Linked DNA regions of Homo sapiens. The protein of the gene in region 1 interacts with the protein of each later gene in a biochemical or structural test. Each region holds a gene or a part of one and is shown on either strand. Other genes may lie near its edges.

Region 1 (2,677 bases):
TGCACCAGTGCCAAACCAAAACCCCGGCATTCTAAGAGGCCGGGGGGTACCACGTGCCACCAGCAGGGGGAGCCACGTCATGGAGCTAAACCTGTGAGGCCTGCAGAGGCAGCCACCACTTGGACGCTCATCCTGGGAGGCTTGGCAAGTTCCCTCTTGGCCTATACCACCAGCACCCTGCGCTCCACATAATGGCAGTCCCGTGTGGCCCGTTTCCAGTGTCTAGGACTGCAAACCCCCACCCCCAGGGCACCAGGGTCCCCATGTGGCACCCAGTGATGAAGTCCTCCTCCCCAGTTAAGGCTTCTTGGGGCAATCACTGACTGCCCCAGTGAGCAGCCCCCCCAGCCAACTGCAGCTCAGTCCCTGCCCACCCACCAGACTCTGCTGCCCATCACAGGACACATCCAACTGCCTCCCAAAATGTCAACCCACTGTCCCCAGGATCCTCCCCCTCCTATCCTTGTGCCCTGGAAGGTCTGAAGAAACTGAAACAGAAAAACCAGGCTTGAGACAGCTTTGTTAGAACAACTCAGCAAAATAAAATTCCTGTTTATTGTTGGACAACATTGTTTCACACATACATCAAACAGGCCAAAAAAAATAAACAGCAACTTCATAGACAAAAAAGGAAAAAAAAAGAAACCTTTTATCTTTGGCCTTTTTAACCATCTCATACAAACCAACTACTTATAGTACAGCTAAGTACATACACAAAAAAGTTACTGGAATGCTCGGAATAAGATTGTTTTTCTGTTGTCATTTTTGCTTTTTTTACAAGGTTTTTTTTCTCCTTTGAGATTATAATGAACATGGTCACACCACAAGTAAAGTCAGAAGTAGGACAGAGAACGCTCCGAAGGCTGGTTTGGTCATCCGAGATCATTAAAAATGGCTGACCCTAACAATATGTACAAAAATATAAAATGTAAATAAAAAATACAAACAAATTTCCTTTTTAAAGTACTTTTAAGAAAAAAAGCAGGGCCTTGGAAGTTTTGGTTCTTTTTTCCTCCCCTGTTGCAAATTCTCATGGTTTGGGTTGGGTGGTGGAGAGCGCGTGTCATCTGCGGGTGGCACTGCCCACGGTGGGCGGGCGGGCCTCTCTACTCGAAGGTGACCACGTTTAGATTCTGAGACGGGAAGTGGAGGGTGAATAGGTCACGGCGGCCTTTTTTTTTTTAGTTTAACTTTTCCTTTTTTGCTGTCTAGTCATCCTCGTCGGTCTTCTGCTTCTTGGTATCGACATCGTCATCCTAAGCAGAGAAAGACTGTCAAAGGCCCCTCCAACCCCAGGAGCCCTATCCAGCCCACTGCCTCAGCTCCTGCTGGCAGAGCAAGAACCAGGGACCCCCAGCTCCACAGCCCAAGGCCTCTGGGAAGTTGAGCCCAGCCCTGTTTCCTTCCTGTTCTTAAGATTCAGGACCACACAGTGGCCACCTACAAAGTCAGAAACAGTCCCTCCGCAGCTTGAGCACCTCAGCTAAAGGCAGGTGGGGAGACCCAGATGCCAAACCCCCCTTCTTCTCAAGCCAGAACCCACCTCATCATCTTCAGCTGCCCGCTTGCCCGTAGCTGACTCAGCTTCCTCATCTTCATCTCCATCCTCTTCCTCACCTGGAGAGAATCAAAGGCCAGGTAAACCACACTTCCCTCCTACTGTGGCTCCTGGGGAAATCCCGAGGAACATGTAGTGGACTGCAAGGTCCCTGCCCTGCCTCTACTGCCTGCAACTGGGCCCAATCAGGGCACCCACGCCCACTACACAGGTGGGACTCTCCAGAGGAGAGAGGCCCAAGCAGCTGCACCCCAAAAGGCCAGCCCAATAGATCAGTGGCTTTCAGAGCTGCACGAAAGAAACTTTCAGGTGTGCGAGTGAGTGTGAGTGGGCATGGGCACAACTCCATGTCAGGGAGACCTTCCCTGACTCTACAGGTGGGTGCCCAGGGCCATGTGGTCCACTGGCCCCAAGTACCATTGTCCCACTCCCAGGAGCCCCAATTCCTTCCTTCCCCTTCTGCCAGACAAGGCCAGGAAAAAGTACCTGAAAAGGGGAAGATAGACAAGGCTACTCACCATCACCTTCTTCTTCCTCCTCCTCTTCCTCCCCACCTTCTTCCTCTTCTTCGTCTACCTCATTGTCAGCCTCCTGCTCCCCATTTTCCTCATTCTCCTCGACAGAAAACAGGCCATGTCATTACCAGCTGGCCCCAGGCTGGACAGAGCGTTGCTCCTGATGCCCGGCCTCCCACCAGAGGCTGGCGGCTGCATCTACAGCCCAGCCAAGCCAAGCCCACCCCAGAGACCCTTCTCCAGTCAACACCCTCCAGGCTCCATCATGAAACCTGCACATTAACTGCCCCAGGACAAGGGCTTTTCCCCACCCTGGGCCAAGCCCAAACTCAGACTACCGGAGTCTCCTCTGAACCTATTCTTGTTCAGGCGCTGCTCGAAAGGTTTTTATAAATATTTAACTAGCAATAATCGCGCCTCGGGTAAAGCTCATTGGCTACGATACTGCCACTGTGCAAAGCTATACATATACACATACACACACATATATAGGTATGTTTAAAGTAGAACAGGAAAAATTTTGTGGGGCGGTAGCTGCCAGGGCTCAGGAGCAAAGCAGACACTCACAGCATTCCCGTTAGCAGGGGCGTCTCTTCCATTTTCT
Region 2 (3,750 bases), on another chromosome or scaffold:
CCCAGCCTCTCACTCCCCATCTTGCACTTTTGCTAGGGTTGGAGGCGCTTTCCTGGTAGCCCCTCAGAGACTCAGTCAGCGGGAATAAGTCCTAGGGGTGGGGGGTGTGGCAAGCCGGCCTGGATCCTGTCCTGGGTCCTCCTTCCTCCGCAGTCCCGTCTCTATTGCTGGGTGTAGTGTCCATGGTCTGGCCTCATCTGGGGGGTGAGGAAAAGCAGGTGGTAAAAGGGACAGAGATCTGGGTTCTAATTCTGCCTCTCCCACTCACTTGATTTGTGACTCCAGGGAAGGACCCACCCTCTCTATCCTCAATTTCTGTCTCTGTAAGTCAAATTTCCCTTCAATTGGAAAGGTTCTGTGTTCCCACTTTGCTCTGGCCACTAGGAAACTCACAATCAAACATATGTCTCGTTTTATTCTGCATCAAGACAACAGTTGCCTGATCCCTCCTCCCCACCCAATCACACACCTTCCGGCCTGTCCTTCATGGCAGAAGCACCACCTTGAGCTCTCTGGGCCCCCCGACTCCTTACCTCCAGCTCTGTCTCAGCGCCGTGCCCCTCGCTTCTTCCTCTCTGAATTCTGCAGCTTGGTCACCAGTTTCCTCTCGTGCCCGCCAGGGCTGGGGCGGTTGGTGTTGGCAGCAGCTTCTCTCTTGGTGCGACCTTTCCGGCCTCCACCTCCTGTAACCAAGGCAGGAGTCAGAGGTGAAGTGGGCATAGGCATGATGAGAGGCCCTGTCAGAGGAGAGGCAGGGGTTCAGGGTTGTGGGGATGGGAAGAGCAGGGAGAAGCCTGCTGCTTCCCCTCTGTGGAATGTGGGACCCCAGATGTGTGTGAGGTCCCAGGCTGAGTAACATAGCACTCCTGGGATAAGGGATTAGACAGGGGTGACGTGAGGGTCCAAGGAACAGGTTGGCTAGAAAAGGGTGAGTGGGCTGGGCAGGGTGGCTCACTCCTGTAATCTCAGCACTTTGGGAGGCCAAGGCAGGAGAATTGCTTGAGCCCAGGAATTTGGGATCAGCCTGGGAAACATAGTGAGACCCCATCTCACCACTGCAGGTGGTGTACACCTGAAGTTCCAGCCACTCAGGAGGCTGAAGCAGGAGGATCACTTGAGCCCAGGAGTTCGAGGCTGCGGTGAGTTGTTTGAGTTGTTGTGATCACACTACTGCACTCCAGCCTGGGTGACAGAGTGACTCTCTCAAAAAAAAAGAAAGAAAGAAACGAAGAGGAAAGGAAAGGAAATGAGAGGAAACAAGAGGGGTGGGTCCTGATTTCGGGAGAGGAGGAAGGACCGTGGAGATGGCTGAGTGGGCCTTACCGAGGTAGGAATGGGCCAGGCTATAGAGGTCAGATTCATCCAGGCTGGAGTCCTCGTCCTCCGGGCCTGGGGGCTGCTGGGGGGCGCTGGTTGCTGGTGGGAAGGTGGCCATCGTGCCTGGCTTGTCTTCCCTGCCTCTCTTCTTCTCCTAACGCTTTGTCTGTCTCTGCTTTCCTGGCCCCGGGCCTCTCCACTCCCTCAGCTTATAAGGCTGTGTCTCCTCCTCAGACCACAGTCTGGCTCCAGCCCATCAGGCCCTGTCTGATGCAATCTGGCCCCTTCCCAAAATCCAGCCCAGTAAACACAGTCATGAGACGGGAAGAGTCGGTCCCTGAGTCCAGCCCAACTCACCTCCTCCCTCCCAGGCTCACCCAGCTGGATATTTTCCATAGAGGAGGTCCCGCTTCTCGGCAGAAAGCAGGGAAGAGGCAGGATCTGGGCTAAAACACTCGTTGGGATCATGGCCTCACCTGATCGAGGGCTTCACCTGGGCCTGGGATGACGGCCACACAGCTAACCCCGGCACCCCAATTCTCGCTGAGATGCAGGACGTGAGGAAGGAGGGGGAAGGGATATCAGCACACTTGTGCCAGGGACAAGTCAGTGGCTTCCACCCAGTCACACTCAACATCTTGCTTGTCTTCTTTTTTTTTTTTGAAATGGAGTCTCTGTCGCCCGGCTGGAGTGCAGTGGTGTGATCTTGGCTCACTGCAACCTGCAACCTCCTCCTCCCAGGTTCAAGCAATTCTCCTGGCTCAGCCTCCCGAATAGCTGGGATTATAGACATCTGCCACCATGCCTGGCTAATTTTTGTATTTTTAGTAGAGATGGGGTTTCACCATGTTGGACAGGCTGATCTTGAACTCCTGACCTCAAGTCATCTGCCTGCCTCGGCCTCCCAAAGTGCTGGGATTACAGGCATGAGCCACACCCTTTTTTTTCTTTTTTCTATGAGAAACATCTTGGAAAACCCCTTAATATCCTGAAACAGGGTCCCCAGTAATGTAATCTCCCTCACCTAGGAGGAGGGTGGCAGAGGGTTGGAGAGTTCAGGGTCTGGAGCCAGTTGCCCTCAGTTCAATCCCCTGACCCACCACTTTCCGTGTGACCTTGGGCGAGTCCCTTCACCTCTCTGTGCCTTGGTTTCCAATTCTGTAAAATAAGGATGATAATAATTGTATCTTCTTCCTAGAGTTGGGGAGAGGATCAAATGAGATAATGTTTGAAAGACACATGCTACAGTGCCCGGTGACAGAGGGAGACCCTGTCTCAAAAACAAATTATAATAAAATAATATGTATTTCAAAATATGGATGTACTGAGGCAGAAGACACAATGAGGCCGAGCGTGGTGGCTTATGCCTGTAGTCCCAGCACTTTGGGAGATCCACAAAGTGGGTGGATCACCTGAGGTCAGGAGTTCAAGACCAGCCTGGCCAACATGGCGAAATCCCATCTCTACTAAAAATACAAAAATTAGCCTGGTGTGGTGGCAAGTGCCTGTAATCCCAGCTACTCAGGAGGCTGAGGCAGGAGAATCGCTTGAACCTGGGAGGGAGAGGTTGTGGTGAGCTGAGATCGAGCCACTGCACTCCAGCCTCAGCAACAGAATGAGACTGTGTCTGAAAACAAAAACAAAAACACAAAAAGCTGAACTTCTGCTTGTGTTTCTCCCTTGCCTGAGCCGGAATTGAATTTAGCCTTTGTTTTCCCAGATTTGGATGATGTATGAGTTCCTTAACACCCAGGAAATGAAAGTGAAGACAGGATACTTGAATGAAAACAGGATTGGGCCAATAATAACAGACCAGGTGATCAGAGAAAGAGGAAAATAATCTTAAATTAAGCAAAGATTGGCCTAGTGCGGTAGCTCATGCCTGTAATTCCAGGGCTCTGGGAGGGTAAGCTGGGAGGATTGCTTGAAGCTGGGAGTTCAAGGCCAGCTTGGGCAATAGAGCAAGACTCCATCCTTTTTTTGTTGGTTTGTTTGTTTTTGTTTTGAGACAGAGTCTCACTCTGTCACCAGGCTGGAGTGCAGTGGTATGATCTCGGCTCACTGCAACCTCCGCCTCCTGGGTTCAAGTGATTCTCCTGCCTCAGCCTCCTGAGTAGCTGGGATTACAGGCTTGTGCCACCACGCCCGGCTAATTTTTATATTTTTAGTAGAGACGGGGTTTCACCACGTTGGCCAGGCTGGTCTCGAACTCCTGACCTCAGGTGATCTGCCCGCCTCGGCCTCCCAAAGTGCTGGGATTACAGGCGTGAGCCACCTGGCCAGTATCTTTTTTATTTGTTTGCTTTACCATTATTTGTCCCCACTGGCATGCAACCGTTGGTTTAGTTTAGTTAATGGTTAAAGGAGTAGGCTCTGGAACAGGGCTTCTCAGGTCTAAAGCTTGGTTCTGCCCCCTAGTTAGCTGTGTGCTCT

What was found. The genes of interacting proteins can lie anywhere in the genome.
Region 2: the proteins of PTMA (region 1) and NUPR1 interact in a biophysical measurement, tested with the Homo sapiens proteins (one study listed by IntAct).

What each region holds. Positions count from the first base shown.
Region 1 is NC_000002.12:231,711,383-231,714,059, reverse strand, and holds the end of PTMA (prothymosin alpha), read right to left. Parts: coding exon 2,641-2,677; intron 2,536-2,640; exon of another isoform or gene 2,452-2,535; intron 2,174-2,451; coding exon of another isoform or gene 2,171-2,173; coding exon 2,077-2,170; intron 1,618-2,076; coding exon 1,544-1,617; intron 1,257-1,543; coding exon 1,209-1,256; 3' UTR 509-1,208; downstream 1-508.
Region 2 is NC_000016.10:28,537,473-28,541,222, forward strand, and holds the start of NUPR1 (nuclear protein 1), read right to left. Parts: upstream 1,503-3,750; 5' UTR 1,436-1,502; coding exon 1,324-1,435; intron 738-1,323; coding exon of another isoform or gene 684-737; coding exon 547-683; 3' UTR 534-546; intron 198-533; 3' UTR 1-197. UniProt on the Homo sapiens protein: Transcription regulator that converts stress signals into a program of gene expression that empowers cells with resistance to the stress induced by a change in their microenvironment.